Homo sapiens: one gene and its partners. The protein of the gene in region 3 interacts with the protein of the main gene of each other region in a biochemical or structural test. Each region holds a gene or a part of one and is shown on either strand. Other genes may lie near its edges. The genes, in order: CLINT1, PALMD, EPS15, WEE1, LMTK3, TMEM114 and DLGAP5.

Region 1 (3,898 bases), on a different chromosome or scaffold from region 3:
AAGGGCTATTCAGATAGATGGATCAATAGAATGAGGGCTTCTATGAGAGAAAGGTTAGGGGTTTAACTATCTGGTTCATATTCTGGCATTACGTTTTTAATTAGCTGTATGTATGATTTGAGGCAGAATCACATGAATCTCCAGACTTTGCCTTCCTTATCTGTAAAATGAGGGGACCTGGCTAGAGTAAGACTTTTTCCACCTTTGATGGCTATTGGAGAAATGCATTTCCATCAAGGAAAAATAGTTGGAACTAGTTTTTACAATAGCAGACAAATTTTGGAGCCATTATCCTCTGTAGACAATTTAGGCTGAAAAGGGAAATTTTCTTAAAAAGTGGTAATCAATAAATGTTATACTTAAATATTTTATGCAATAAATAAGACCATGACTCAGGAAGACTAGGACTTTTAGTGTATATTGATACCCAGTGAGGTTTTACTTCAGAAAAAGAAATGTACTCTGAAAAATGTGTTTCCTGGAGCCACTCTTAGATTCAGTATGGTAGCGGCTCTTAAGTGTAATGATGTATTTCTTTTTTTTTTTTGAGATGGGGTTTCGCTCTTGTTCCCGGGGCTGAAGTGCAGTGGCGAGATCTCAGCTCACTGCAGCTTACACTTCTGGGGTTCAAGCGAGTCTCCTGCCTCAGCCTCCCTAGTAGCTGGAATTACAGGTGCCTGCCACCACACCCAGCTAATCTGTGTATTTTTAGTAGACACGGGGTTTCGCCATGTTGGCCAGGCTGGTCTTGAACTCCTGACCTCAGGTGATCCACCCATCTCAGCTACTCAAAGTGATAATGATGTATTTCAAACACTGGCTTTTGAGACCTTGAAGACTTTTTCTGGAAGTGGGGGTATATTTTCCACAATCGCTGCACCTCCTGGTGGCAGTAGAGGGATTTGTTTTGCAGAACATTGTGGAACTGAGGGAAGCAGATAAAGCCATAGGCCTGCCAGAGCTTGGAATGCCAGTATCTTCCCACTCGTCAAGTTGCATAAAAGGCGATGTGGCAGGAAAGGATAAGTGGCACCATTCCCACCAACTAGGAGCACTAGCTTAATCATTGTCATCCTATGACCTATCTTTACTTGTGGCTGTAATAAAATTGGACATGTTTATATTTTGTCATCCTATACATGGTAAAATTGAAAGTTGCTGCAGTTCTATTTTCTCTCTAGATTTGAGGAATGTAATGAAGGTGACATGGTAGTGGTAGATCAAAACTGCTACTTATTTGTTCAAGCTCAGCGAATCCTTCTCTTTCCTTGCAAGGAGTAATATTAGTGGTAAATCTCTTTCATCAGTGACCCGCCCCCCCCCCCGCCTTTTTTTTTTTTCGGAGACAGTTCACTTTATCCCCCAGGCTGAAGTGCAATGGCGTGATTTCAGCCCACTGCAATCTCTACCTCCCGGGTTCAAATGATTCTCCTGCCTCAGCCTCCCGAGTAGCTGGGATTACAGGCGTCTACCTCCATGCCTGGCTAATTTTTGTATTTTTCATACAGCTGAGGTTTTGCTGTGTTGGCCAGGCTGGTCTCAAACTTGTGACCTCAGGTGATCCACCCACCTCGGCCTCCCAAAGTGCTGGGATTACAGGCATGAGCCACCTTGCCCAGCCTCAGTGGCCCTTTTTTTGATAGTGATTCAAACAGCTCTGGCTAAGGTCCTAAGGCAACAGCTATGGGTAGTCCATTTTAAGTTATTCTCCTAAGCATAGCTTGCATTTTCCCTCATAAGTTGATTTTTATTGATGTATATTTGCTTGGTTTTAGTTCCTAAATGTTTAGATAATGTAATAGAGCTGTAGAAACTGCTGTTCTAGTCTCCTGACTCCAGAGGGAGAAACTTTTGCTTTTATAAAGAATAGTATATTCATTTATTTTAACAGGCAATACATTTGTTATTTATTGGATTAGTAGTCTGGTTTCTTTTTATTTTTTATTTTTGAGACAGGGTCACACTCAGTTGTCCAGGCTGGAGCACAGTGATGCAAACATGCACACTGCAGCTGGGACCACAGCTGCGCCTCCATGCGTGGCTAATTTTAAAAAATTTTTTTGTGGAGAAGGGTTCTTGCTATGTTGCCCAGGCTAGTCTTGAACTCCTGGGCTCAGGCAGTCTGCCTGCCTCAGCATCCTGAAGCGCAGGGATTACAGGCGGGAGCCATTGCGCCTGGTCTAGTACTCTATTTTCTGAACTCGAAACATACAATACCTGCCTTCAAGAACCTTGCCACTACAAATATGCTACAACTTGAATGGATTATTTTTCTTTTCTTTTCTTTCAGTCTTCAGATATCATCCCCTTTATTTTCTTTATCTTACCAGTAAATCTCTGTTCAGTTTGCTTCTTGGAATTTGAAAGCAGAGATAGTAAGATAGTTGTCAGCTTTCTAGTCTTCCCATGTCAACTTTTCTTTGAACCGATTATAAGTAATTGTTATTGCTGAAACAATGAATTAATTATTCTCCTCCTTTTCTAGTAACTGGACACAAGTAGATATTAGGAATTTAATTCCAAAGAAAGATGAGTTTGGTTTATCTCTGCTAGCATTTCTTAGGGGTAATTTTCTGTAGTTTAATCTATTTAGTACTACTGTCAGGGTGCTTTTAAAAAGCACTTAACTGCCTCTTATGTTTTCTTGCACACTTTAGTATTAGTTTACAAGCAGTTTTTCTTTTTTTTTTTTTTTTTTTTTTTTTGAGATGGTGTCTCGCTCTCGTTGCCCAGGCTGGAGTGCAATGGTGCGATATTGGCTCACTGCAACCTCTGCCTCCTGGGTTCAAGCAATTCTCTTGCTTCAGCCTCCTGAGTAGCTGGGATTACAGGCACGTGCCACCATGCCCGGCTAATTTTTGTAATTTTAGTAGAGACGAGATTTCGTCATGTTGGCCAGGCTGGTCTTGAACTCTTGACCTCAGGTGATCCACCTGCCTCAGACTCCCAAAGTGCTGGGATTACAGGCGTGAGCCTCCGTGCCCGGCCTACAAAGCAGTTTTTCATCTGTTTACTGATATGTCCATTGAAAGTACTTAGCCTTTTTTATTTTGAGTGCCATTTGCTAGTAATCCAAGGTTTCACAATATGGCTCTACAGTTGAGTCTTTTTCTGGACTTTTTTTTTTTTCTTTCTTTCTTGAGATGGAGTCTTGCTCTGTCTCCCAGGCTGGAGTGCCATGGTGTGATCTCAACTCACTGCGACTGGCCTCTGCCTCCCAGGTTCCAGCGAGTCTCCTGCCTTAGCCACCCAAGTAGCTGGGATTACAGGCATGTGCCACCATGCCCAGCTAATTTTTGTAGAGACGGGGTTTCATCACTTTGGCCAGGCTGGTCTCGAACTCCTGACTTCATGTGATCTGCCTGCCTTAGCCTCCCAAAGGGCTGGGATTACAGGCATGAGCCATTGCCTCTGGCCTTTTGTATGCTTATATTATTTTCCTACTTGTTTCCAATGTTTGTTTTAATGAAGATCACTTCACAGATTCAAAGTACATTTTTAGTACTTTTGAAGGTTCTTATATACAGTTAACTTTTTAGTCTCAGCTACCTTTGGTGACAACATATTTTACTGTTTACTCTTCTGTGTTTTTCAGGTTAACGCTTCATGTGAGCTTTCCTTGTTTAGCTTAATTATGTGTGTTTGTCCATCTATGTATTTTTATAATAATTTGCTAGCCAAATATACTTTGCCACTATACTTAGGTGCCTCCAGATGGTGTTTAATAAATGTGGGAATAGCTAGTGGTTCAGAGGTGAGAACTGGATTGAAATCTTAGGTCTGCTACTAGAAACGGTGATCTTATGTGTTAGAATGGTATCTTTATTTCTCTGTAAAATAGAGATGATATTTTATAGGATTATGAGGATTAAATGTGAAACAGTATAGTACTTGACAT
Region 2 (4,274 bases), about 48 Mb from region 3:
GGTAAAGCGAATAGAATTCTGTGCAAAATTACAGCTTGCTTTTGTTGTGTCCTCCCACCTTTCTTTCTGAACCCATTTTGTATTTCTTACCTCCTCTATAGCCTGGTGGTTCTTGGCCTTCCTTGACTACCCAAGAAAAACTGCAACACCCCTCATCTGCACTCTCCCTGTCCAGCTTCTCTGCTTTATTCTCTGTATTGCACTCCCTACCATGATATATTTAGTGAATACCTACTATGTGCCTAACTGAACCTGGCACACAGTATCTATTCTCTAAATATTTGTTGAATGAATAAATGACTACCATCTGCAAATAAAGAGTAGCTTTTCCTTCCACTGTAAAATTCAAAGTTTTCCTCTCTGCTCTAATGCAAACCTTCATTTTTCTAGAAGCTTTGAAGCATCAGTTTTATGTAACTCAATTTCCCATGGAGGTAAATAAGGCCTAAGCTTCCCAAAGGAATATTTTCATTTTCAAAAAAGATCTTTGTAACCCCCAAAGAGGTTCTATTGGATGGAATATGTCAGGAGAAATATTTTTGACCAGGGAATCTATGCTTTTAAGAGCTTCTTGTCTCCTTTGGGTCTCTATCTTCCTTATCCCTGTCTGGTTTGTTAGGGAATAAAATGCATGGAATAAATGCTATTATTATACCCTCATTATCCTCACCTATGCGGTGACTCACATAACTCACAGAACTTTGTAAAGTGAACCATTGCTTAACCTGGAAGAATAATATGTCATAGCAAGTTGTGAATATTTGACACTGTAAAATCTGAAATTAAGAACATGCCCTTCAACACAGATTTCTCATATACCTTTCCTATTTTGTTCATCATCTTCTTTTTCTTCATTTATCTCCTTCCTTAACCTAGAAGGTATGTAGGACTTTGGAAGGTCAGGGATATTAGCATAGATGTCCTCAATTGACTCTGTAAAATTAATATGAATTCAAAATACATTTAGAATATATTTACAATGGGAACAATTTCAAATTACCAAAAAAACTTAGTTTAACATAAAATAAGTTATTCAAAAACATACCTTCTGCTCTTTCTTCTCTTTCCACTTTCACAGACTGTAAGAAAAAAGAATTCTCCATGATTAATACAGTTTAAAAAATAGAATCTAAATGTGGATATGCTTTGAAAAATTATATAGTATTTGTGGATTCATTTTGAGAGAGAATTACAGTTTTAAAATTGGTTAATGCTCACTCTTATAATGTCTTCTGTTGTCCGCTCAATTGACTTTAGTTTCTTTAAAATGGCCTCTTCCTTCGTTGAGATTTGCAGTTCAGCTTTTTCAAGATCTTGGATCTCTTTCTCAAGCCTGACAACAAAAAGGTATACTTTTTATTGCTTAACACAGTACAAATGCGGAGTTCTCAAATATGTCTTCCCCATATATAAAGTTTCCTTGGAATATGCATGTAAGTAGCCAGACACTTTCTAAGAATATAATGTCACACTTAGCATCACACTAAGCATGATACTTAATATATGGAAGATACCTAATGCCCGACTTTGAACGATTTTCAAGTTTTCTTTTTTTGACAAAGGAATATATTAGGTAAAGCATTTGACCTTTGCTCCATGTTCTTCATTGCAATTACTAATGTTATTTCCAAATAAAAGAGATTTTTAAAATACAGAGACATAAGTTTAAAGTTGTACCGAAAGGAATGGTACATTTGTAGTTATTATGTAGTTCATCAGGTTTTCATATCCAAGTCATCATATAAATTATTTGAAGAAAACATTATAATTATTAAACTGATTTAATAATCATAGTCATTTAGTACTTAAAATTCTTGCATATTCTACCATTGAAAATGACACTTTGATTTAATTTCAGTTTCCTAAGAGTTGGGCCATATTATAGTGAGGAGGGTGAAGAGATGCAGAAATGGACCAAATATAGTACAGTAGCTTCAACTGCTGCTGTTTATAGAGGCTACATTTTCTGGGCGGGGGGTAGGGCACACATGGCCTGACACAGCATAAGGAACTTACAGCAACAAAGAGACAGACATTTGAAACTAGACTGTTGCAAGCATTCTGAGCTGGTATCTTGGCCAGTGTACAGCTGCGTGTCAGATTCAAATGAACTCCAGGGGGCAGCATCGTGACCTCTCCTCTATAAAAACATAGAGACACTGGCAATCACGCAGAAGGCTGGCCCTTGGCAGCCACGTAACACACATGGTTTCTCAGCCAAATACACTAAGGCTCTAAAGTCAGCTGCCTCAGAGGATGGCTGATTAGATTCAGCAGCTGGTCCAGGAGGTGACAGCTGTGGATATTCGTGTCAGCTAAGAGAACTGTCAGTTTTCTTGGCTTCCTTCTTGAAGATGGTCATGGGCCTGGCAGCTCAAAAATGCTGCACTATTGTCACACCAGTAAAAGCCCAAGATGTGGTCAGCTTGACAGCTCTCTTGCTCATTGCTTCAGTTTCAAAGTTCTTACTTTGCTGCTGCCTCTGGCCATTGGTAGATTGCCGTTTATAACTGAGGAGGTTTTCTTGTATGCCACAGACCTCTAAGTGAAATGGAGTAGCCCCTGGTTTCTTAGAAGTGACTGAACTGTGACTGCCATTTTATTAAAATTCCTCCACATCCATGGCAGCACTTTTACCCTTCAGCAGAGCTGTGGGGATATATGTTGGTCCAATTTGGTAAAGGGGAAAGCTCTGCACTAAAAGTGATAAATCTGGATTCAATTCTGTCTCTGCTACTCATTTCTTGTGAAAGCCAGTTCCCCTAACCTCTCTGAAACTCTGTTTTGTAATGTGTGTAATGAGCATAATTACAGATTACGCTCATTACCATATACAGACAGATATGTGGTGACACTAAGAGATGATGTATATGAAAGTACATTGAATATGGTTGATATCAGATGTAAATATGTTATGATATAATTTTTAAAAGTTTTCTGCAACATACTGTATGTCTTTCTTTTTTCATCCCCTGTCCCACAGGGTGCTTACCTAATTTGCCTGTTAGAGACAGTCTACAAAGGAAAGCCTTTTGGTAGAAAACAAGAAGGTTCAAATCATTGCTTCAAGCAGCTCTTGCACATCAGGGCCTAGCTGTGGAATCAGGTGGACCTGGGTTTGAAACCTGGTTCATCTGCCAGCTTCCTGTGTGACCTTAGACAAGTCACCTGACCTCACTAAGACTCAGTGTTGGGCTGAGAGAAGTGGCTCATGCCTATAATCCAGCACTTTGGGAAGCTGAGGCAGGAAGATTGCTTGAGCCTAGGAGTTAGAGATGAGCCTGGACAACATAGTGAGACCTCAGTCTCTACAAATATTAAAAAAAATTAGCTGAGCATACACCTGTGGTCTCAGCTACATGGGAGGCTGAGGTGGGAGGATTGTTTGAGCCCGAGTGGTCGAGCTTGCAGTGAGCCATGATCATACCATTGCACTCCAGCCTGGGCAACAGAGTGAGATCTGGGCTAACAAACAAACAAACAAACAATAAAACTCATTGTCTTTATTCATTCATTCTTTTAAAAATATTTACTTAGCATCTACTTTGAACCAGGCACTCTTCTATGTGCTGGGGATCTTACAGTGACCAAAACAAAGTCCCTGAGCTCAAGGAGTTTATGTTCTAGTGGGAGACAATACAGGGGCTGGCAACCTTTTTCTATAAGGGGCCGGATGCCAAATATTTTAGGTTTTGCAGTCCACATATGCTTTCTGTTTCTTATTCATCTTTTTTCCCCTTTTTCTTTTACAGCCTTTTAATAATATAAAAACCATTTTTAGCTTGTGTCTGTACAAAATCAGGCCAGGGCTAGATTTGGTCCTGGGCCATAGTTTGTCAATCCCTGCATTAATAAATGTGTAATACAAATATGTATATATTGCAGATGTATGTACATACATATATATACACATAAACACATTTATTTATGAAGAAAAAATATTTTTGATGAGAAAAGCAGGATAGGGGCTGTAAACAGCAAGATAAAGAATATAGAGAAAGCCTGAGGAGGGGGCACTATTTCACACAGTGTGGTGAGGGAAGTTTCTCTGATAAAGTGTCATTTGAGCAGAGACATGAAGGAAGTGAGAGCGGGAAACATGAGGGTTTCAAAGGGAGTGTGCTCCAGAGAGATGGAAGAGTAACTATAGAGAGCGAAGGAAGAGCCAAGAGAGTAGAAAGGTGAAATGAAGTCAGAGAGGAGGCAGATGACCAGATAGGCAGGGCCTTGTGCATGGAAGGGCTTTGGGGAAGCCACTGGAATTTTGAACAGAG
Region 3 (4,274 bases):
TCCCAAGTAGCTGGGACTACAGGCACGCACCACCACACCTAGCCAATTTTTGTGTTTTTAGTAGAGACGGGGTTTCACCATGTTGGCCGGGATGGTCTCGATCCCTTGATCTTGCAATGTGCATGCCTTGGCCTCCCAAAGTGATGGGATTACAGGGGTGAGCCACCGCATCCAGCCCGACTTAACTTTCATTAGATGGAATTTGATTTGTTTCAAGCAGAGAATCAAAAATTGGCCTTTTTAGAAGGTTATAATTCTCTTAGTGTAAAATAACCCTCTGGTAGTTTGTGGCATTTAATATCTTAAGTATGGTTTTAGCAAGTCAAACTCTTGTTGGGGCCAGACGGGGTGGCTCACACCTGTAATCCCAGCACTTTGGAAGGCCGAAGCGGGCGGATCACTTGAGGTCAGGAGTGTGAGACCAGCCTGGCCAACATGGTGAAACCCCGTCTCTACTAAAAATACAAAAATTAGCCAGGCATGGTGGCGCATGCCTGTAATCCCAGCTAGGGAGGCTGAGGTGGGAGGATCACTTAAGCCCCAGAGGCAGAGGTTGCGGGAGCTGATATAGTGCCACTGTCCTCAAGCTGAGTTACAGAGCGAGACTCCGCCTCAAAAAAAAAAAAAAAAACAAAAAAAAACAAATCTGGTTGGAAGGAGTCTTGAACAACAGCTGAGGCATTTTGCTCCAAAATCTCAATATAGTATAATAAAAAACAGCTTATAATAAGAACATCTTCTTTTTTCATTGTGAAAGATGTGGTTAAGCATTACACGTTTCAAAGTTTTGCTTAATTCCCTAGGGAAAAAAACTACCATTTCAAAAGCCTGACAGTGTATTTTATTTCATCCTTTCATGAAGGATTTTCTATGTAACAAGACTTGAAACCAATTAGAATTTTTAATTTAGTATTTGCCAAGGTTGCTGTTTGGGGTAGATAAAAATATTTCCCCAACATAATAATTATGAGTGTTAAGATTTTATTTAGACTGGTCTAAAAGTTCCCAAAGCCTGGAGAAATCTTCATAATGCTTTTTGTTTTATTTTTATTTTTTTTGGCTCACTCCGTCGATCTGGCTGGAGAGCGGTGGTATGATCACAGCTCACTGCAGCCTCAACTTCCCAGGCTCAGGTGATCCTCCCAGGTAGCTGGAACTACAGATGTGCACCACCACACCTGGCTAATTTTTTTTGTAAAAACAGAGTTTTGCCATGTTGCCAAGATGAACTTCTTGAACTTCTGAGCTCAAGCAATTGGCCCACACCCACAGAACTAGGATTACAGATGTCAGCCACCATGCCTGGCTCAAAATGCTTTTTATAAAATATGATTAGGTTCTTGGGAGGCCGAGATGGGCGGATCACCTGAGGTCAGGAGTTCGAGATCAGCCTAACCAACATGAAGAAACCCTATCTCTACTAAAAATACAGGATTAGCCGGGCGTGGTGGTGCATGCTTGTAATTCCAGCTACTCGGGAGGCTGAGGCAAGAGAATCGCTTGAACCCGGGAGGCGGAGGTTGTGGTGAGCCAAGATTGCTCCATAGCACCCAGCCTGGGCAACAAGAGCGAAAACTCTGTCTCAAAAAAAAAAAAAAAAGATTAGGTTTAAATCACATCTTGCTTAGTATACCCAATACTTTAATATGATGTATAGCAAAATCAGCTTTTTTTTTTTTTTCTTGCTTCTTAGCTTTTTTACACATTAAGGGTTAGGAAACTACCAGTGGGATTAAATTAAAAATGATTTGTTGTGTGAGGGTCTCAGTAAAGTTGAAGTGGTAAATATTTTACATTACATTAGGTCAAAAAGGCTAGCCCTGTCCTGTTTTTAAATCTTCTAATCTACTATAAGCATTTCTACTTTTTTTAGTGAGATATATATATATATATATCACATTTAAAAAAAAAAAATATATATATATATATATATATATATATATATATATTTTTTTTTTTTTTTTCAGATGGAATCTCACTTTGTCACCCAGGCTGGAGTGCAGGGGTGCATTTTCGGCTCACTGCAACCTCTGCCTCCTGGGTTCAAGTGATTCATGTGCCTCACCCTCCCAAGTAGCTGGGATTACAGGCACCACCACCATGCCCAGCTAATTTTTGTATTTTTAGTTGAGAGCGAGTTTTGCCATGTTGGCCAAGCTGGTCTCGAACTCCTGACCTCAGGTGATCCACCTGCCTCAGCCTCCAAAGTGCTGGGATTACAGGCATGAGCCACCACATCTAGCCTAGTGGCATTTTTAACATTTAGTTTTATAGACTTTCTATCTATAGATTGAATTAATTTTTTAAATTAAACTATAGCTTAATAACTGGTTAATATTAAACATGTTTTCAGGGGGAAAAAAAAAAGAATTAACAAGTAACCAGACTATTTCCAGAGTCCTTCAGGTGTCCTTTTGTAAAAACTATTTTTCCTTCTTTTTACTTGCTTTACTCATTTATTTATTCGTTTGTTCATCGATCTTTTAAATGGCAGTATCCCTCTGAAGAAGATATGATCGAATGGGCCAAGAGGGAAAGTGAGAGAGAGGAAGAGCAGAGGCTTGCCCGACTAAATCAGCAGGAACAAGAAGACTTAGAACTGGCTATTGCACTCAGCAAATCTGAGATATCAGAAGCATGAAGAATTCTCTTGTTCTTTGGCAACAATATAGTATTCTTCTTCCTGAATACTGAAACTATTTACAATGTGTATCAAAACTACCTGTGAGCATGGGAATACAAAAGGTTTGAGATTCCTGTAAATGTGACAAAATTTTAGGATTTTTTTTTTTTCTTCATTACAGATTCGTCTTTTTTTTTTTTTCTTATAAAAGCCGTAACCCAGTCAGACAAATTCACCTTCACTTAGGCCCCTGTTCTGGTATACATTTACTGTGAGCTTTTGCCTGCCTGTGCTATTTTACTTGTAAAGCTAGAGCACCCAAGCTTCTGCCTTCTGGAATATAGAGAAATAGTTTCACCCTGCACTACCCTGTTCTGTAGTTATTCTGATGATAGCCAGTGAGGTTCTTAAAGTTTGCAGTATTCTCCCCTGATTGGAATGGTTGAGTGAGGGTAAGGGAAAGAATATCTTATTTCTTTTATGATTGGTGCAAATTGGCTAAAGTGCATTTTTAAATTTCCTCTACTTAATTTGTTTTTCAGAGATAAGGAAAAATATTTTGCACAGATTTACTCCACTATGGAAAAGGGATGCTGTAGGTTGAACCATTATAGCCTCAGATTCGATCTTTTCCTAACTAAAAATATTAAAGCCTCATGTGTGAAATAAATTTTTAAAAAGATTTATCTGGATTTAGAGAATTTTAGATCAACAGATACCTCTCAGTGTGTTTGCTAATTAATAAAAATCAGTTTCTTACAAATAAAGTTTGTAAGAAAATGTTCATTTTAAGTGATAGATAGTGGAGAAAATTTATCACCTAAAATATACCCATCAGTATAAGGCAAGCAAAAGTCTTAACATGGCAGCCATTCTGCCTTTGCCGTGGCCCTGTCCTGTTTAGTTCTTAGTGGGTTAATTTTTGTACTTTTGCAGAAGAAACTTCAGCAAGCTAGAACTGGAAGGTACTTTAATTTTTCATATATATTTGTTTTTTTTTTTTTAATGAAGGCTCATTTACTTGAAATGTAAAAACTTTCACTGAATACAAATAGAAAAAGTGATGTGTTTTATATCATATTGCTTTTTGTCCATCTTTGTGGTTTAGTTTATTTACTCACTTCATGTTTTTCACCTATAAAATTGTCAAGCTAGCAAAAAAACTCTTGTTTTTTTAATTGGGAGAGAAGAGACCTGCCAGATTATCAGACCTCTTCATGTTAAAAGACCATCTCCTGTAAAACTGACCTAGTGGACAAGCTGAATTTGAAATAGACTGTGAAGTAAGCTGTAACTTGTCATTTTAATTTTGTTTAACACGGTTACTGACTTAGATGATGTATTAAATACCAAGATAAAGAAAAATGCACCTAAAATCTAATTAGAATTCTCTGGGTCAACAAGTCAAGGTGGTATTGATCTGTGTTAATCTGAGTAACTTATTGCCTAGCCTATAAATAAATTCCAAAATATCCAATTCATTTCTTCTTGAAATGGTGCTTGTTTTGTTTTCTTTCCATTACACAATTAGACTCCTACAGTTTAAAACAAACTTTAAACCACTATCTTGCACTGCTAACTTTTTTCTACCTTTGTAAATAGAAACATTTCTGCATAAAAGTCATACATATGAAGCAAGGGCTGAATCATA
Region 4 (4,182 bases), on a different chromosome or scaffold from region 3:
CCAAGCTTTCACCGTATAACAACATATCGAACTACTGGAGCCGGGTGAGGTGGCTCACTCCTATAATCCCAGCACTTTGGGAGGCCAAGACAGGTGGATGGTTTGAGCCCAGGAGTTCAAGACCAGCCTGGGCAACATGGCAAAAACCCCATCTCTACAAAAAATATAAAAATTAGCTGGGTGTTGTGGCATGCATCTGTGGCTCAGCTACTCAGGAGGCTGACACGGGAGGATAGCTTGAGCCCAGGAGGTGGAGGTTGCAATGAGTCATGATAGCACCAGTGCACTCCAGCCTGATGACAGTGAGACCCTGTCTCAAAAAACAAAAAACACAAAAAACCACTACATCCTTTGTTGACAGAAAGCTTAAATCATCTCTCATTAAAATTTGAGAATTAAAGTGAATGAAAAAGCAAAAAGAAAACATAAAACCCTCACTTACTTTTGTAAAAGTGAATTTTTGAACTTTTCGGCATTCAATTCTATTCGTAATTGTTCTGCACTCTTTCTAGAAGCGGACAGCAATACTGAATGCTTTACCAGTGCCATTGCTGAAGGTCTTCTCTCTGGATCTGGATGAATCATAACCTTAAAAAGAAAAGTAAAATGAAGGTAAAGACATGCATTTAATAAAATATAGAACCATGTCAATAAAGGGCTTCATATATAAAATGCTCACTTTTAGCAACTCTGTAAATTCTTGGGAAAGCACTTGTGGTATCCGAGGTAATCTACCCTGTCTGATTTCATGCCATTGATCTCCATTTCTCGGAAGAGGTTCAGCACCAGCAGCACATACCACTGTGAGGGCAAGCGCAAAAATATCTGCTTTTGGTAGATGGGTATAATTCTGTAAAATTAAAACAATTTTTTAAAGGAATGTAAACATGGTCAAAATAAAACAAGATTACACCTCAAAGATGACTTAGGTGAAAAATAGGACTTAATCAAAGTGTCTAATACCACATTTAAGTTTGGGACCTATTCAGAGAATAAACTGCTAAATTTGAGGATGTTTATTTTTTAAATTACAAAGTAATACACACTCTTGGGGGAAAAATGCAAACACATAGATAAGAGTAAATGCCTCTTCTTTATCAACAGCCCAATTCAACTCTCAAAAGAAATCCCTCTACCTCTAGGCATTCATATGCAAACACAAAACACGTAGAAACACACTGACAAGTTACAAATACACATATACGTGATAAAGCAAACATATATATACACATATTTACAAAGAGCAATGGGATCAGACAATTACACTTTATATTTTTCTACTTATTCTATTTTCATTCAAAATTTTTATCAAGAAATACTGTCACACTCTTTTGAAACTATAGGCCATACTAATAACTATGTGCCATAATTTACTTAATCATTCTCTTATTAGTAAACACTTATTTACACTGTTCTCAACTTGTATTTGTATATGAATAGTTCTATAGGAAAAACTCCTAGAAGTGAAAATTATGAGTCAATGGGTACATGATTTTTAAATATTAATGCAATACTAATACTCTGATCTCCAAAAAGGATATGCCATTATAAAGTTCCACCAGTGGTGTATGAGAACATATTTTTTACGACAACTCCATTATAAATCTTTGCCTTCATGACTTTTTGCTTATTAAATGCCCTCAGATGACGGTTTAGATTTTATTTCCATTCTATTAGTTAACTTCAAAGTTTAATATATCTGAATTTATATTCTTCTATCAACTGCTAAGTGTTACAAAGCAAACTATGATTAAGGGAGAAGAAAAATTACCTCCTGTAAAACTTCATTTGCAAGAAAACGACTATCGCCCTCTTCAACTTGTGGACTGGAGATCCTTGTTACATGCCCAAGATCACCTAGAAGTATTGAAAAACTTACAGTGAAGAGCAAAAACAAAACAGCCTTCTCTTTATCTGAAGGTAATAATCTGATTACCTTTCTTACCTATTTTAAACATAACTTTGTTGGATGCCCAATCATCTTCGTCTCCTTCTTCAGAGGCAGCATTTGGGATTGAGGTTCGAGATATGAAAATATTACCTGTCAAACAGTTAATTATGTAAGCCAAACTAATAATAATAAAACCAGAGTTCATAAACAAGATCATATACCAGAATCATCCATAATGCTTTTTAAAATGCCGATTCTCAAGTTCTAGCCCAAACCCATGGAATAAGCATCTCAGGGGACAGAAACCAGGGTTATAGTTGCTGGGAATTTTTTTTGTTTTTTTTTGAGACAGTGTGCTCTGTCACCCAAGCTGGAGTGCAGTGGCATGATCTTGGCTCACTGCAACAAGGTTCAAGCAATTCTCATGCTTCATTCAACCTCCTGAGTAGCTGGGACTACAGGCACATGCCACATCTAGCTAACTTTTATATTTTTAGTAGAGACGGGGTTTCACTATGTTGGCCAGGCTGATCAAACTCCTGGCCTCAAGTGATCCTCCAGCTTCAGCCTCCCAAAGTGCTGGGATTACAGGCATGAGCCACCACTCTGGGCCTCTGGGAATATATTTTCCAGCCTAGCACTGATCCTAAACACTTTAAACTGGATGAGGCCCTTGTCTTCTAGCACATTACCCTTCAGCAAAAAAGGTAGTATCAGTAATTTGTGAAATTCTGTGAAAGCACAAGTTTTAATGTAGCGCTATAAGGCTGGTGTGAGCAGAATGAGTCATTTAGCCAGTGAGTCTGGCTGACCATATAGCATCTACCTTGCAATATGGCTTTGTGATTCACTATTTCCTATTGTATACACATTACCTTTTTTCTTCAAATTCAGGTAAGATCATAATTAACATGAGCTTTTAGTGGCAGATTCTATTTTAATAGTTTTATCAGTATAGTATTGGCCAGGTATGGTGGCTCAAGCCTGTAATCCCAGTGCTTTGAAAGGCTGAGGTAGGAGGATTACCTAAGACTTGGAATTCGAGACCAGCCTGGGCAAGATAGTGAGACCCTGTCTCTACAAAAAGAAAAAGAAAAAAATTAAAATAGCTGGGAATGGTGGTGCATGCCTGTAGTCCCAGCTACTTGTGAGTCTGAGGCAGGAGGTTCATTTGAGCCCAGGAATTCAAAGCTGCAGTGAGCTATAATTGCACCACTGCATTCTAGCCTGGGCAACAGAGTGAGACTATCTCTAAAAAATAAGGCCGGGAGTGGTGGCTCACACCTGTAATCCCAGCACTTTGGGAGGCCAAGGTGGGCGGATCACTTGAGGTCAGAAGTTCAAGACCAGCATGGCCAGCATGACAAAACCCCATCTCTACTAAAAATACAAAAATTAACTAGGCATGGTGGTGCACGCCTGTAATACCAGCCACTAGGGAGGCTGAGGCAGGAGAATCGCTTGAACCCAGGAGGCAGAGGTTGCAGTGAGCCGAGATCGCACTACTGCACTCCAGCCTGGGCAACAGAGCAAGACCCTGTCTCAAAAGAAAAAAAAAAGTATATATATATATATATATATATATATATATATATATATATATATGTGTGTGTGTGTGTGTGTGTGTGTGTGTGTGTGTGTGTGTGCGCGCGCGTGCACGCACACACACGCACAAATATTTAGTATTAAATTTATGTTACATTTACTGGAGTCATCTATACGTTTTACTTTCTTTATAGGACAACTTATTTTGTGATGGTATTTGTAAATTGGAAGGTTTTTTTTTTTTTTTTTTGAGACAGTCTCGCTCTGTCGCCCAGGCTGGAGTGCAGTGGTGCGATCTCAGCTCACTTCAACTTCCTCCTCCCGGGTTCAAGCAATTCTCCTGCCTCAGCCTCCAGAGTAGCTGGGACTACAGGTGCCTGCCACCACACCCAGCTAATTTTTTGTATTTTAGTAGAGACGAGGTTTCACCGTGTTGTCCAGGCTGGTGGTGAACTCCCAAGCTTAGGCAATCCACCCGCCTCAGCCTCCCAAAGTGCTGGGATTACAGGCGTGAGGCACCACGCCCGGCGAATTTTTTTTTTCTTTTTTTGAGACGGAGTCTCACTTTGTTGCCTAGGATGGAGTGCAATGGTGCAATCTCGGCTCACTGCAACCTCCGCCTCCCGGGTTCAAGCAATTCTTCTGCCTCAGCCTCCCGAGTAACTAGGACTATAGGTGCGCACCACTACACCTGGCTAATTTTTGTAATTTTAGTAGAGACGGGGTTTCATCATATTGGCCAGGCT
Region 5 (4,878 bases), on a different chromosome or scaffold from region 3:
CTTGGGTGCGCAGCTCCGGCCCAGCCTCACCCAGGGGAACGCCTCGCAGGTGCTCACGGACGATGGAGAGGTCCGCGCCCAGGGTGGGAGTCCGCGCTTCCGGGTGTGTCTGCAGCTCGGGGCGCTGGAGGGTGGGATGTGACCCCGAGACGGCGGCGGCCTGGCACGTGATGTATGTGTGTCCTTGTCTGATGTGTCGGTGTCCCCGATGGACCGGGTTCCAGTCCCAGCTTTGCCACTCCCCGGCTTGTGTGCCTTGGGGCAGGTGACTACCCCGCGCTGTGCCTCAGTTGCCTCATCTGTACAATGGGCATGATTAAAAAATACCTGTCTCAGAGGGCGGTTGTGAGGATTGAGAGGTAATTCTGTACGTGTAAAACGCTGCGGACGATACCTGGCACAGACTAAATACTCATAAGAATAAATACATTAAATAAACTATGATCATGTATCTTTTGTATGAGGCAAGTGCTGTGGTTGTGTAATGTCTGCGTAACCGCACGGGAAACGTGGGTATTTGCGACCCGTGTGTCTGTGCGCGTGTCTGTGTCTGTGTTGTGGGTGTGTGACTCTTTGTATGTGTTATGTGTGCCAGTGTGTGTTTATGTATGTGATGTGTGACTGTGGTGGGGTTCTGTGTCTTTGTAACCTTGTGTGAAAGGTGTGTGTATTTGTGATGTGTGTGTCCATGTCTGTTTAGGTATGTGATGTGTGCAACTCTGTGTGTCTGTGTATTTGATCTGTGTGCCTATGTCTGTGCTTATGTATGTGTGACTGTGTATATGTGCATGTTATATGTGTCTGTATGTATCAGTGTGTGGTGTATTTATGTGTATTTTTGCATGTGATTTATGTAGCCCTGTATGTATGAGTTGTGTGTGCCCGCATGCATGTGTATGTAGTGTGTCTGTGTGTATCCATGTGAGTGAAGCTTGTGTCCGTGTGAGTGATGCATGTTACGTGTCCGTATACATGCATGTATTATGTTTCTGTGTACTCATGTATGTGATGTGCCTGTCTCTGTGTAGCTGCTGTGTCCGTGTCTATGTTAGTTCATGTGATGTGTGTGTCTGCGTGTGTCTGTGCAATTGCTGTCTGTGCATGTCTGTGTGACGTGCATGTATGTGATACTTGTGTCTGTGGGTATTCTTTGTTGCCCATTTGTCTAGGGACTGTCTGCGTGGCTGTGACTATGAGTGTCAGCATGTCACAGTGGTGTCCGTGGGGATCTTTGTCTGTGGCGTGTGCGTCTGTGGATCTGGGGCTTTACTTTGTCCGGGGCATGTGTGGGTCTTTGTGATGCTTTGACGTTCCTGCGTGGCCGGGTGCATCTGTGCTGGAAGCTGGCCTGCCTGTGCGTTTCCAGTGCGGTCCCTGCGTCTTTGTGTGTGACGTGTACGTGTCCCCGTCTGCTGATGGCTGTCCACCTTTGTATGTGATGCGCTTGTCTATGAGGGTCCCTGCGACGTGTGTCAGCTGTGTGTGGGCTGCGCGTGCCTGACATCTGCATCTTAGCGTGTAGCACATGTGTCCATGCTGGTGGCATGTCACAGCGGTGTCCGGGCCAGGCACCCGTGGGCCCTGCCCCCCCACCCCCGCTGCAAGTGTGTGCCGGTCCCTGTCTGTCCCTCCCCCTCCCATTTCCTCCCCTCCCTCCTGGCAGCCAATGCTACGGGGGAGCCAGTTGCCATGACGACGCTCCATCCTCCCTCCTCCCACCCTTCCTGTGACAGGCTCTCTGCTCCCCCAATCCTGGCTGCCCTCGGGGGCGGGGCCCTCTTTCTCGCCCCCCCCATCCTACCCTCTCCCCCCCACCCCAGCAACCCCGGCTCCCCAGCATCTCTCCTCTGTCCGCCTCTCCATCCCTTCATCCGTCTGTCCCTTCAAAGAGGGGGAGGGGGGTACCTGAGCCAGCAAGCAGCCCCTCCCTCCCCCTGTCCTGCGTCTCCTGCCCCTCTCCTGGGCCGGGAGGAGGCCAGGGTCGCGCGGGTCCCCATGGCTGGGGGCTGAGGGCCCGCCCCCCCCTCCTCCCCAGCCGCCACCACCTCCACCTCCCTGCCATCCTCGACAAGATGCCTGCCCCCGGCGCCCTCATCCTCCTTGCGGCCGTCTCCGCCTCCGGCTGCCTGGCGTCCCCGGCCCACCCCGGTGAGTCTGTCGGGCCATCAGTCTGTCCGGTGGCCCCCACCCCCGCGGCGGCCTCGCTGTCTGCCCAGGGGTCTGTCTGCGGGTCCTGCCCCGTCACCTGGTGCGCGTCTTCCCGCAGCCCAGCAGGGCCCGGAGCGGCGGGGACGGTGCCTCTGTCAGCAGGGCCTGTGGGAGGGAGGCTGGGGGCTGGGTGGGGAGGGGGCTCCGTTTGGGCAACATGTGTGTATGCGTGCACGCATGTGTTTGTGCTGGTGTGTGCAGGAAGAAGGGGAAGGACAGGGCCTCTGGGAGAATTGGGGGCAGAGGACAGGAATACTATTTCTAAGGGGGACACAACACGGGAGGCTGTCTCTGGCTTCTGGAGAGACCCAGGGCTTGCGGAGTTCCCTTCTCTGGGTCTTGGGCTGGGGATAGAGAACATCGGTGTGCGCCAAGCGTCCCTAAAAGAGACAGATCTCAACCCCACAAACTGGGGGGTTCCAGCATGGGGCAAGAATCTTCTCCCAGCCTGCAGCTGAGAGCTAGTCCTCCTCCCCAACGAGGGGTAATGAGGCTGTCCACGGGAGCGTATTTTAAATTCTGCAAGCTCCAGACTTCACTATCACTCCTCTTTCCTTCAACCCTCATTGGAATTCATCCAAGCCTGGGGTGAGGGGATGGGGTGGGATGAGGTGGCGGGGGTCCCAGTTTGGGACGAGAAGAGAGACCCCACCCCCAATCCAACCACTTGGGAAGGCCCCAAACTACAACTCCCACAATGCCTTGGGCCACTCTGCACCTCTGCCAAGGGACCCTGGTCGCAGAGCATCACGGGAGTTGTAGTCCAAGACGTGCCGGGACGGGAGGGGGCATGATTCCGGTATCCAGGGACTTGAAGCTGGGACCCCAGCCCAGCCCTGTGCCCACAGATGGATTCGCCCTGGGCCGGGCTCCTCTGGCTCCTCCCTACGCTGTGGTCCTCATTTCCTGCTCCGGCCTGCTGGCCTTCATCTTCCTCCTCCTCACCTGTCTGTGCTGCAAACGGGGCGATGTCGGCTTCAAGGTGAGGTGCATGAGGGGATTCAACTTGGGGAGGAAGACTCCAGCAAGGCCTTTACCCCCTACACAGGTGGTTGGTGGGGAGAAGGGGGCAGTAAATCCGAGAGCACCTTCCAGCTTGAAGCTATGGCAAGATCTGGAGCCTTGGGATGGGGAAATGGGGGATGGAAATTGGGCTGGGACTGGGAGACAGTTACAAAAATGAAGGGGAGACAAACTTAAGAGAAAGACGATGGCGTGTCTCTCAGCCCTGCGTTCTCCCACCCCTCTTCTCCTCTCCTGGCCCCAGGAATTTGAGAACCCTGAAGGGGAGGACTGCTCCGGGGAGTACACTCCCCCTGCGGAGGAGACCTCCTCCTCACAGTCGCTGCCTGATGTCTACATTCTCCCGCTGGCTGAGGTCTCCCTGCCAATGCCTGCCCCGCAGCCTTCACACTCAGGTACTGCCCCACGCCATGACCAGCATCCCATGGTGTCCCGGGAAAGGCCAGAAGATGTTGAGTGTGTTCCTTCAGGGGCTGGGGCGGTTGAGACCAGCGGCAGCCAATGGGAAAGGCATAGGTGGGAGCGCTGGAATCTTGGAAGCAGCCTATGGGGAGGCAGACAAAGATCATCTTGGTGGAAGCCATTGCTTAATCCAAAACCAGATTTGGGGATTTTTAAGGGGCAAGCGGTGGTGAGATTACCATAGAGCACAGTCTCAGAGGCAGCCAATGGGAGGCTGAAATCACATCATAGGAGCTTGGGATGCCAAAAGGAAGGACTGATTGGATGCTGGAGCCTTGTGAGCAGCCAATGAGGAAGCTGAGATTCTGACATGGAATGTGGGTGGCAGCCAATGAAAAGAGAGTGATGTCTGCTCTGTCTCAGTCCCCACTGACCTGGGGTGTGTTGGTAGCACTCAGGAAGGGGGAGAGACTCAGGGGCTTTCCCCTCTTGCCCTCCCCAGACATGACCACCCCCCTGGGCCTTAGCCGGCAGCACCTGAGCTACCTGCAGGAGATTGGGAGTGGCTGGTTTGGGAAGGTGAGTGGGCTGGGGAGGGGAGGCAGGGCTCCATGGATCCCGAGCTGTCCTCCTGTTCTGTGTCCACACCCCTGCTCTCACCACTTCTCATCTGTCCCTCGCCTCCTCCCCATGCCCCCTCAGCCTCCCATCCCCCCTCCGTCCACCTCTCACCGGCTCCCACCCGCCCCATCCCCGACATCTGTCAGTCAGCGCCTCCCTCCTCACTCCATTGACCACTCCGCCGCGCCACCCGGCTCTCCACGCGTCCGTCCGTCTGTCCATCCTTCCATCCGTCCCTGCGTCCATCGGATTCTGGGCCCGTGAGTGTCTCACCCCATGTCTGGTGGGGGTCAAGGGTGGTGGGATGTGGAGGGAGAAGCTGGGAAGGAGCCGGGGGTTGGGAGCTGTGTGGTGGAGTGGAGCTGGTCCCAGGGGACGGGGCTGGGGAAACGGCACTCGCTGACTCCTGGGTGCCCCTTGACCAGGTGATCCTGGGAGAGATTTTCTCCGACTACACCCCCGCCCAGGTGGTGGTGAAGGAGCTCCGAGCCAGCGCGGGGCCCCTGGAGCAACGCAAGTTCATCTCGGAAGCACAGCCGTACAGGTACTGAGGGTTTCTCAGTGGGTGTGTGCCTTGTTGAGGTGACATTCAGGAGTGGAAGGAGTGCTGTATGGGGTCACACC
Region 6 (4,728 bases), on a different chromosome or scaffold from region 3:
TACAATTTGCACTTAGCAGTTAGCCAAGTCAAGTTGGTGGGATAAAAGCAGGGAGATTCCAGGTGGAGGGAACAGCATGTGCAAAATATTTGTGGCAGGAGGAAACTTAGCATGTTCCAAGAACTGGCCAAGGCCAGCACAGCTGGAAAGAAAGGAGTAAAGCGGAGAATGGGGCTGGAGAGGGACCCTACCAAGCCTTGTGGGCCATGCTAGGCACTTGTCTTTATTTTTTTATCCCCAGCCTCAGTAAGTCTATCAAAAACTGCTCATGCCTATAATCTCAGCACTTTTGAGAGACTAAGGCAGGAAGATTGCTTGAGCTTAGGAGTTTGAGGCTGCAGTGAGCTAAGACCGTGCCACTGCATTCCAGCCTGGGCAACAGAACAAGACCCTGTCTCTGGGTAGGGTTGAGTGGAGGGAGAAGGCCAGGCACAGTGGCTCACACCTGAAATCCCAAGACTTTGGGAGGCCAAGGCAGGAACATCACTTGACCCAGGAGTTCAAGACCAGCCTGGGAAACATAGTAACTATGTTTCCTATCACTATTAAAAAAAAACTGATACCAATGCAGTGGCTCACACCTGTAATCCCAGCACTTTGGAAGGCTGAGATGGGCAGATCACTTGAGGTCAGGAGTTCGAGACCAGCCTGGCTAACATTGTGAAACTCCATTTGTACTAGAAATATGAAAAATTAGCCCGACGTGGAGGCAGGCACCTGTAGTTTCAGCTACTCAGGAGGCTGAGACAGGAGAATCGCTTGAACCTGGGAGGAGGAGGTTGCAGTGAGCCAAGATTATGCCACTGTACTCCAGCCTGGGCAACAGAGCAAGACCCTGTCTCAAAAAAAAAAAAAAAACCTGCCCACATTTTCAAAGTCTATGAAACTCAGTCTTCATTTCCTCATCAGATCCTCCTACAGAACCTCTCTGGGCCTCCTCATTGGAAAAATGAAGGCAGAAATGACGATACTAATAACTTCATAGGGTGTGGCTGTGGGAATCAAATGAAGACATAGATGAAAAGCAGTTCGCTCCACGTCTGGCTTATCTCAAGCCTCAATGAATTGAACTGTTAGGTTTATTTCCCTCCCTCCACAAATGCTCATTCATCCCATTTCCTTTCTTGCTTTCAGTCCTCACAACTTTTACTGAGTTCCAGGCACTGAGCTGGGTACTAAGAACCAACCAGGAATAAGAGGGACGCAGTGGACCTGAGAGGAGGGGCTGTTCCCACCTCCTAATTGCCTGGCTCCAATCATATATTTATATGCAAATTTCTATCGCACCCCACTACTGCAAAGCCCTTGTTCTAGGCAATGTGAATACAAACAACGCTGGCATGGAATCTGTGGAATGAGACCTCTCTTTCACCATTCACCTCCCGAGGCTAATTTAGGTCCCTGCAGGGGCTTCCCACCTTCCCTTCCTCACGCTGCTGGACTCTAACTGCGCGTCTCCACATTTGTCCCAGCACCACTGTGAGCCCCTTGAGGGGATGGCCTGTGTCTTAACCATCCATCAAAACGGTGCAAAGAAAGCCATTAGTCAACGTGAGCTGAATGAACCCTAAACCACAAAACGTTACAGGTGGATCAGGAGAGACCCTGCCCCCCGGTCTTAAGCCCACTCCATTCTCAGGCTGGGCTGTCAGAGGCCACCCCAGCCGCCCTCTCCGCAGGCCCCGAAGCCCGGCTGTTTTGGGAAAGGCTCCAGAACTCACGGCTAGGACCGGGGCGCTCCCTCCATCCTCACCCTCCCCGGACTCACTGAGAAGTTGCCGGCTCGATTCGCTGACTGTCACGTTCTCCAGCCTGAAGGGGTTCATCAGCGGTGTGCACGGGCTCTGCACTGGATAGGACGGAGGAATCCATGGGTGCAGGACCCCGGAGTTCTGTGCAGCACCCTCGTCTGCGGCTTTGCCCCCATGCTCACCCTAAGTGCCCCACCCGGGGAGGGCGCGGGGAGAGCTAGAGCAGTTGGGATCGCAGCCGGGTGCCTCTCGGAAGGGTTTTCGCAGTCCCGGCCTTCTGCTCACCTTCCCCCCGAGTCCCTAGACATTGTATTTTAGGGACTTGGGGGAGGAGTGCGCGCCAAGCAACAGGTCCCAAGGGAGCAGGGCACCGCGCAGGGGGCGTTCGCAGCCACAGCTCCCAGCCACGGGGTGCACCCTTACCCCGGCAGGTCCGCCAGAGGCCGGAGTGGGAGCTCAGAGGCTCGGGCTGGCTGCGATTGATGGACCCCAGCAGGTCCTGCGCCCCCGGGCCAGTCCTCTCCAGCCGCTCGGTGTCAATGATATACCAGAAGTCCGTGCCGATGGCGGCCGCCAGGAGCACAAAGCTGAGCGCCCCGGTCAGCGCAGCCGCGCCGGCCAGCCCGCCCAGGTGCACCCGCATCGCCGAGCCCAGGACCAGCAGCCGCGGGTTCCAGTGGCCGCGGCGCGACCCCTCTGCTCCTGCCCCCGTCCCCAGCCGGCCACCGCGGGCTCCCAGCTCCACCGCCGCCAGAGCCGCGGAGCTCAGATCTGAAAGCCTTTCCTTTGGACCCCGGGCCCTAGCTTAGACCCTGGCTCCTCACCTGCCGGCTCCGACCTGCACGCGCCCCCCGCTCAGCCGCCGTCCACGTTCCCACCCCTCCAATGCCAGCTCTACCTGCAGACCCCCTCACTCTCACTTGTGCTGTCCGACCTCCACCTCCGCCTTCAGACCCTCCTGGAAGCTCTAGTCCTTCCCCACCAGCACCTTAACCCACCTCGTCCCTCAGCCCCACTCCACCCTCGGCCCTCCACGCCCAGCCCAAGCGGACTCTCTCACTTCAAAATCCTCACTTTCCCCAGACTCCTACTCCCTCCATTCCCCTGCCTCACTCTCCACGAACCCTCCCCACGATCCCAGATGCTCCCCTCTCTGCCTCTGTCTCTGGATTTCCGCCCCAGCCCTTTTTCTTGGCCCCACACTGCCAGATCCCCACTCCCAGCCCTGCTCTCCAGGGTCTTCCCGCAGCTCCTGCTCTGGCCGGGGCGCAGCTGACCCTCTGAGCCCTCCTCCTCGCCGAGGAAAAGCTCGGAGTGCGCACGCAGCATGGACGGGGGCGGTCCCCAGCCCTGGAGCGCTGGAGGCTGCCGGTGTGGAAGGGCAGGCGGCCTTGGGACCACCTGGGGCAGAAAGAAGGAGGGGTGTGGCGGGCCTCACAGTCCCGCCAGGATTTGCAAATCATCTCCAAGAGCCCCTCCAGCTCCAAGTACCCTTCCTCCAAAATCCACCTTCGAGTGTAGTCTGGGCTGACTAGAATGTGAAAAGGCACATTAATTTTTCATAAAAGTTCTCTAAAGCACTGAGGTAGTCCAGGTCCTCAGAATCTATCATTTCTACCCCCAAAGTCTTTCTTCATTATCATAGCCACCAGCATTGCCACCATCATCACCACCACCACCATCACCATCATCAACATCACCACCAACAACAACACAATCATCACTACCATCACCATCATCATCACCACCATCACCAGCAGCAGCATCACCAACAGCACCACCATCACCATCATCATCATCACCAACAACAACACCGTCATCACTACCATCACCATCATCATCATCACCACCATCATCACCAGCAGCAGCATCACCAACACCACCACCATCACCATCATCATCATCACCACCACCACCATCACCATCACCACGGACAACACCACCATCACCACCATCACCATCATCACCACCAACACCGCCATCATCACTACCATCACCACATCATCTTCACCACCATCACCACCACCACCACCACCATCACCACCATCACCACCACCACCATCATCGCTATCACCACCATTGCCATCGTCATCACCATCATCATCACCACCACCATCACCACCACCACCACCATCACCATCACCATGGACAACACCACCATCACCACCATCACCATCACCACCACCATCACCACCACCATCACCATCACCACAGACAACACCACCATCACCACCATCACCACCACCACCACCATCACCACCATCACCACCATCACCACCACCACCATCATCACTATCACCACCATTGCCATCGTCATCACCATCATCATCACCACCACCATCACCACCAACCACCACCATCACCACCAACCATTACCACCACCATCATCACCACCATCACCATCATCATCACCACCATCATCACCACCATTACCACTATCACCACCATCATCATCACCACCATCATCACCACCATTACCACTATCACCACCACGGTCATTACCATCACCACCACCATGACCATCACCATCATCATCACTACCACCACCAGCACCAGCACCACTCTCCTCTTTATCATCACCATCACTCTTATCAATTCCACCATCTTCTTCACCACCATAAAACCTTTTACTCCTTCAAGAAATACTTCCGGTACCTTCTATGTGTCTGATGCTATAGTCTATGTTAAGAATATAGGCATGAACAATCCAAAAACAAGTCCTGCCCTTAAGAAATATAGGATTCAGGCTTCCCAGACTTTTACAAAGTAGGGGACACAGAGAAAATACCTATATTTGCATGGCTCATTAACAGAAGAGGCTTCCAGATACTGGGGATGACCAATCCTCAGGAGTTACAGCTACTAAAGACCCCTCAATGCTGACCTTATGGCTGAGGAATCAAAATCTTGGCACTCCTGTGATCCATTCGTAAGGGACCATTGTATCAAGGTCCAAAAGTTGGTAAGTGCTGGTCAG
Region 7 (3,749 bases), on a different chromosome or scaffold from region 3:
CAGTTAATAAGGAATTTTATTCCTTAAGTTATATTTTTGGAATGCGTTCATATTATACCCTGAATAAGAGATGAAATGTAAACACTGTATGCCTATGTGCATCTGTACCTATATATAAATTAACATGAGAGAGATAAGAGCTTTTACAGAAGGCTTCACAAAAGGGCTGTTTGAACTAGATTTAGAGGCAAGAGGTCACCAGAAGTAAAAGCAGGGAAGTAGCCACTAAAATAGCAGGACATAAATAACCAATGATGACTGAAGGTGGGATAGATATTATTTCCCCAGAAGGGCAGAAACTTTGCCTTATATTTTTCTTGAATCACTTAGAAATATATTCAGATATTCAAGTACCCAGTTTGTCAGAGCAAATTTGATAGAAAAACCATATAGAAAAACATATCTTCAGGGTTAATATTAAAACATACTATATTTTAAAGTATATAAACACCAAATTTTTCTTCATTCTGTGAAAAATGAAGAGTGAGTAAGCAAAACAATGACAAGATATACATTTTAAGCCTTGTACACAAATAGAAAAGCAATATTCATTTTATAAAACAAATCTAGAATATAAAGGGACTTGTCAAGTTGGAAAACTTACTGAATCAAGAAGGTGGCATTCAGTAGTGAGACTTTTATTATCAAATAGTTCTGAAAAACAACAAAAAAAAACTTTTTAAAGAATATTCTCACATTCGAGGGCTGTTAGAAATGGACAAAGCCATGAAAAATATGAAAAGTTCCACATATCAAATGCTAAGACAAAAATATAGACCCCTATGCTATAATGTTTTTTGAAAGTAGTTAAATTCTTATCCTTAACTTTGGTATAAAAGCAGACTTCTGTAAACAAATCTCATGCTTGTAACATTAAAGGTACCCAGAAAATGCTGATGAAGAACAGCTGGAGGACATTAAATGTCTGGCCGAGGTTAAAACCTTTTGTTTTACCATAGGCCCCAGTTAGACCAGCTACAGACTAACTGATGAAAATGGCAGGTAAAACTGGCACACATTATAACAAAAATATAGGAGCCATTTCCTATTGCAGAACCATCACAACAATATAGGTAGAACTAGGCAGTAGGGAAGAAAAATAGGATATTTTGAAGAAAGACTTGGGGATATGTGTTGAAAAGGACAACTAAAAAAAAAGCCCAGGCTGGCCAATGTGGTGAAACTCTGTCTCTACTAAAAATAAAAAAATTAGCTAGGCGCGGTGGTACATGTGTAGGAGAATCGCCTCAACCTGGGAGGTGGAGGTTGCAGTGAGCTGAGATCACACGACTACACTCCAGCCTGGGCAACAGAGTGAGACTCCATCTCAAAAAAAAAAAAAATCTTGAGGGAATTGTTCTAATTCAGGGTCTTCACTAACAATGAAGGATCCTCAATAGTTAGATCTAATGTAAAATGGACCTTATAGGATAATTTATACCTTAATCCAAGTTCATTTCTTTAATAAAGGCTCGTTTAAATATATTTTAAATATCTCACCTGACTGAGAAATTTTAGTTTCCCCTTCTTCTAAGATGCTATTTTGTGAAGCTGTATTTTTTTCAGGGCTACTCATCAAAACATCCTGTGATGTAATTGAAGAATTCAGTTCCATTCCTTCCACAACATCTGAAATTCCTTCTTTTTTGTTAGTATTAATATCATCTGCTACTCCACCAGCAAGAAGAGGCAAACTCATTCTCTCACTGGATAAACAATCCACCTTCAAGTCTGTCTTATTTACAACCTGGAAGTAAAAATGGCATTATATTTAATTATCAATTTAATTACTTGGAACAAATTTTAAAAGTCTTGTTGCTATTAAATACAAGAAAAACAGAAGGATGACATCCCGGACACAGTCTTAAGAACATTATAAATCCTACTATCCTGCTTCTTCAACAATTAGTTCAGATAATATTATAGAAATAGTATGATTGAAGGCAAGTTTCTCAGCAAGTACCTATACTCTAGCTCAGGGACTGGCAAACATTTTCTGTAAAAGATCAAATAGTAAATATTTTAGGTTTGTGAGTCACAGGGTCTCTGTCATAAGTACTCAACTCTACCACTGTATTGCAAAAGCAGCCAGATAGAATACATAAACAAATGTGTGGCTATTACAATAAAATATGATTTGTAAAAATAGGGGCCAAAGTTTGCTGATTTCTGCTCTAGTTCACTGGTTCCATATTCATTCTGATATGAGTTGAAGAATACAAAATGACACTATGGTTTTAAACAACCCAAATGTCATTGAAACAAGAACTACAATTCTACATGACTGATTTAGATTTCCAACGGAAATTCTGGGGATGCTTTACAAAGTTACTTTCTATAATGATATAAACATATGACATACTGGGCTATCTAACCACACTGGAATTGTACTTACATGATTTTCTTCAATTAAATCTGGTAATCCAGGACACTGAGCATCTTCTATGCTGCTCCTAAAGAAGAAAAAAAGCAGCATTACACTCATAAACATATTGTTATTGTTTCACTTGTATTTTGAGTCTTTCCTTTAATGATGGCAATTAGTTTAGGGAATGGATCAAACATGGAGCCTGGTGCAAGATCAGGCGTGATCCAGATAGATTAGTTTTGGACTATAGCTACTGCAGGATGGCCTTACAAACTAAATGCATTCTTCCCCAGAAAGCTCACAAGTCTGTTACCATGGTGGTCAGTCAGGGTCAGGTGGCTCTACCAGCAATACTCTGAATCTCAGCCAAATCCAGAGCTATATATTAAAGAAAAGTCAAAAAGAAGGTGACTTCTGGAGACAGAAGCAACAATTCAATTATTGTCTAGCTGGAGTTAGCTACATTTACTCGTTACTTGTTAATCCAGGTACCTGCTAAGAAACTTGACTTCAATCATACTATTTCTATAATTTTATCCGAAAGTTCAAAAAGCGGAACAGGAGTTACAATGTTCTTAAGTCTGCTGCTTGTTAACAAGTAAATGTAGCTAACTCCAGCTAGACAATAATTGAGTTAGAATACAAGGTATTCTAATCCTGAAGTTACTAGCTTGTATCTTATTAGAAATATCTGTTTTGGCCAGGCGCCTTGGCTCACGCCTGTAATCCCAGCACTTGGGAGGCAGCGGCGGGTGGATCACGAGGTCAGGAGATTGAGACCATCCTGGCTAACATGGTGAAACCCCGTCTCTACTAAAAATACAAAAAATTAGCTGGGCGTGGTGACATGCGCCTGTAGTCCCAGCTACTTGGGAGGCTGAGGCAGGAGAATCACTTGAACCTGGGAGGCGGAGGTTGCAGTGAGCCGAGGTAGTGCCACTGCACTCCAGCCTCAGCAACAGAGCGACACTCCGTCTCAAAAAAAAAAAAAAAATTTATCTCCACTTCTTTCAAGTTACTTTTTAAAAAAGATATGCTCTATTTTTCTAGTGTCCAGCTTTACTTTGCCTTTATTACACAAAGTTGCTTATTTGTATGATGCCCTTTGAGGATGTTTTGGGGAATCCAAAACATTTTTAAAGAGTACTTATGACTCAAATGCAATTATGAATCTTCTTAGCAAACAATAGTAAACTACAAGATATACAAAGTAGGCCGGGCATGGTGGCTCACGCCTGTAATCCCAGCACTTTGGGAGGCCAAGGCTGGCAGATCATGAGGTCAAGAGATCAAGACCATCCTGGCCAACATAGTGAAACCCCGTCTCTACTAAAAATACAAAAATTAGCTGGGCGTGGTGGCGCGTGTCTGTAGTCCTAGC

What was found.
Region 1: the proteins of EPS15 (region 3) and CLINT1 form a complex in vitro, tested with the Homo sapiens proteins (one study listed by BioGRID).
Region 2: the proteins of EPS15 (region 3) and PALMD interact in a test that uses a peptide from one of them, tested with the Homo sapiens proteins (one large-scale study listed by BioGRID).
Region 4: the proteins of EPS15 (region 3) and WEE1 interact in a test that uses a peptide from one of them, tested with the Homo sapiens proteins (one large-scale study listed by BioGRID and IntAct).
Region 5: the proteins of EPS15 (region 3) and LMTK3 interact in a test that uses a peptide from one of them, tested with the Homo sapiens proteins (one large-scale study listed by BioGRID and IntAct).
Region 6: the proteins of EPS15 (region 3) and TMEM114 interact in a test that uses a peptide from one of them, tested with the Homo sapiens proteins (one large-scale study listed by BioGRID and IntAct).
Region 7: the proteins of EPS15 (region 3) and DLGAP5 interact in a test that uses a peptide from one of them, tested with the Homo sapiens proteins (one large-scale study listed by BioGRID and IntAct).

Annotation. Positions count from the first base shown.
Region 1 is NC_000005.10:157,852,585-157,856,482, reverse strand, and holds part of CLINT1 (clathrin interactor 1), read left to right. Parts: intron 1-3,898. UniProt on the Homo sapiens protein: Binds to membranes enriched in phosphatidylinositol 4,5-bisphosphate (PtdIns(4,5)P2). May have a role in transport via clathrin-coated vesicles from the trans-Golgi network to endosomes. Stimulates clathrin assembly.
Region 2 is NC_000001.11:99,683,735-99,688,008, reverse strand, and holds part of PALMD (palmdelphin), read right to left. Parts: intron 1,334-4,274; coding exon 1,219-1,333; intron 1,080-1,218; coding exon 1,046-1,079; intron 934-1,045; coding exon 820-933; intron 1-819.
Region 3 is NC_000001.11:51,355,067-51,359,340, reverse strand, and holds part of EPS15 (epidermal growth factor receptor substrate 15), read left to right. Parts: intron 1-2,494; coding exon 2,495-2,641; 3' UTR 2,642-4,274. UniProt on the Homo sapiens protein: Involved in cell growth regulation. May be involved in the regulation of mitogenic signals and control of cell proliferation. Involved in the internalization of ligand-inducible receptors of the receptor tyrosine kinase (RTK) type, in particular EGFR.
Region 4 is NC_000011.10:9,583,117-9,587,298, reverse strand, and holds part of WEE1 (wee1-like protein kinase), read right to left. Parts: intron 2,042-4,182; coding exon 1,946-2,041; intron 1,858-1,945; coding exon 1,772-1,857; intron 851-1,771; coding exon 680-850; intron 589-679; coding exon 443-588; intron 1-442. UniProt on the Homo sapiens protein: Acts as a negative regulator of entry into mitosis (G2 to M transition) by protecting the nucleus from cytoplasmically activated cyclin B1-complexed CDK1 before the onset of mitosis by mediating phosphorylation of CDK1 on 'Tyr-15'.
Region 5 is NC_000019.10:48,508,771-48,513,648, reverse strand, and holds the start of LMTK3 (serine/threonine-protein kinase LMTK3 precursor), read left to right. Parts: upstream 1-1,813; 5' UTR 1,814-2,035; coding exon of another isoform or gene 2,036-2,072; coding exon 2,073-2,148; intron 2,149-3,056; coding exon 3,057-3,190; intron 3,191-3,475; coding exon 3,476-3,626; intron 3,627-4,135; coding exon 4,136-4,212; intron 4,213-4,679; coding exon 4,680-4,798; intron 4,799-4,878.
Region 6 is NC_000016.10:8,587,445-8,592,172, forward strand, and holds the start of TMEM114 (transmembrane protein 114), read right to left. Parts: upstream 3,068-4,728; 5' UTR 2,395-3,067; coding exon 2,175-2,394; intron 1,850-2,174; coding exon 1,769-1,849; intron 1-1,768.
Region 7 is NC_000014.9:55,150,195-55,153,943, forward strand, and holds part of DLGAP5 (disks large-associated protein 5), read right to left. Parts: intron 2,454-3,749; coding exon 2,396-2,453; intron 1,748-2,395; coding exon 1,501-1,747; intron 655-1,500; coding exon 605-654; intron 1-604. UniProt on the Homo sapiens protein: Potential cell cycle regulator that may play a role in carcinogenesis of cancer cells. Mitotic phosphoprotein regulated by the ubiquitin-proteasome pathway.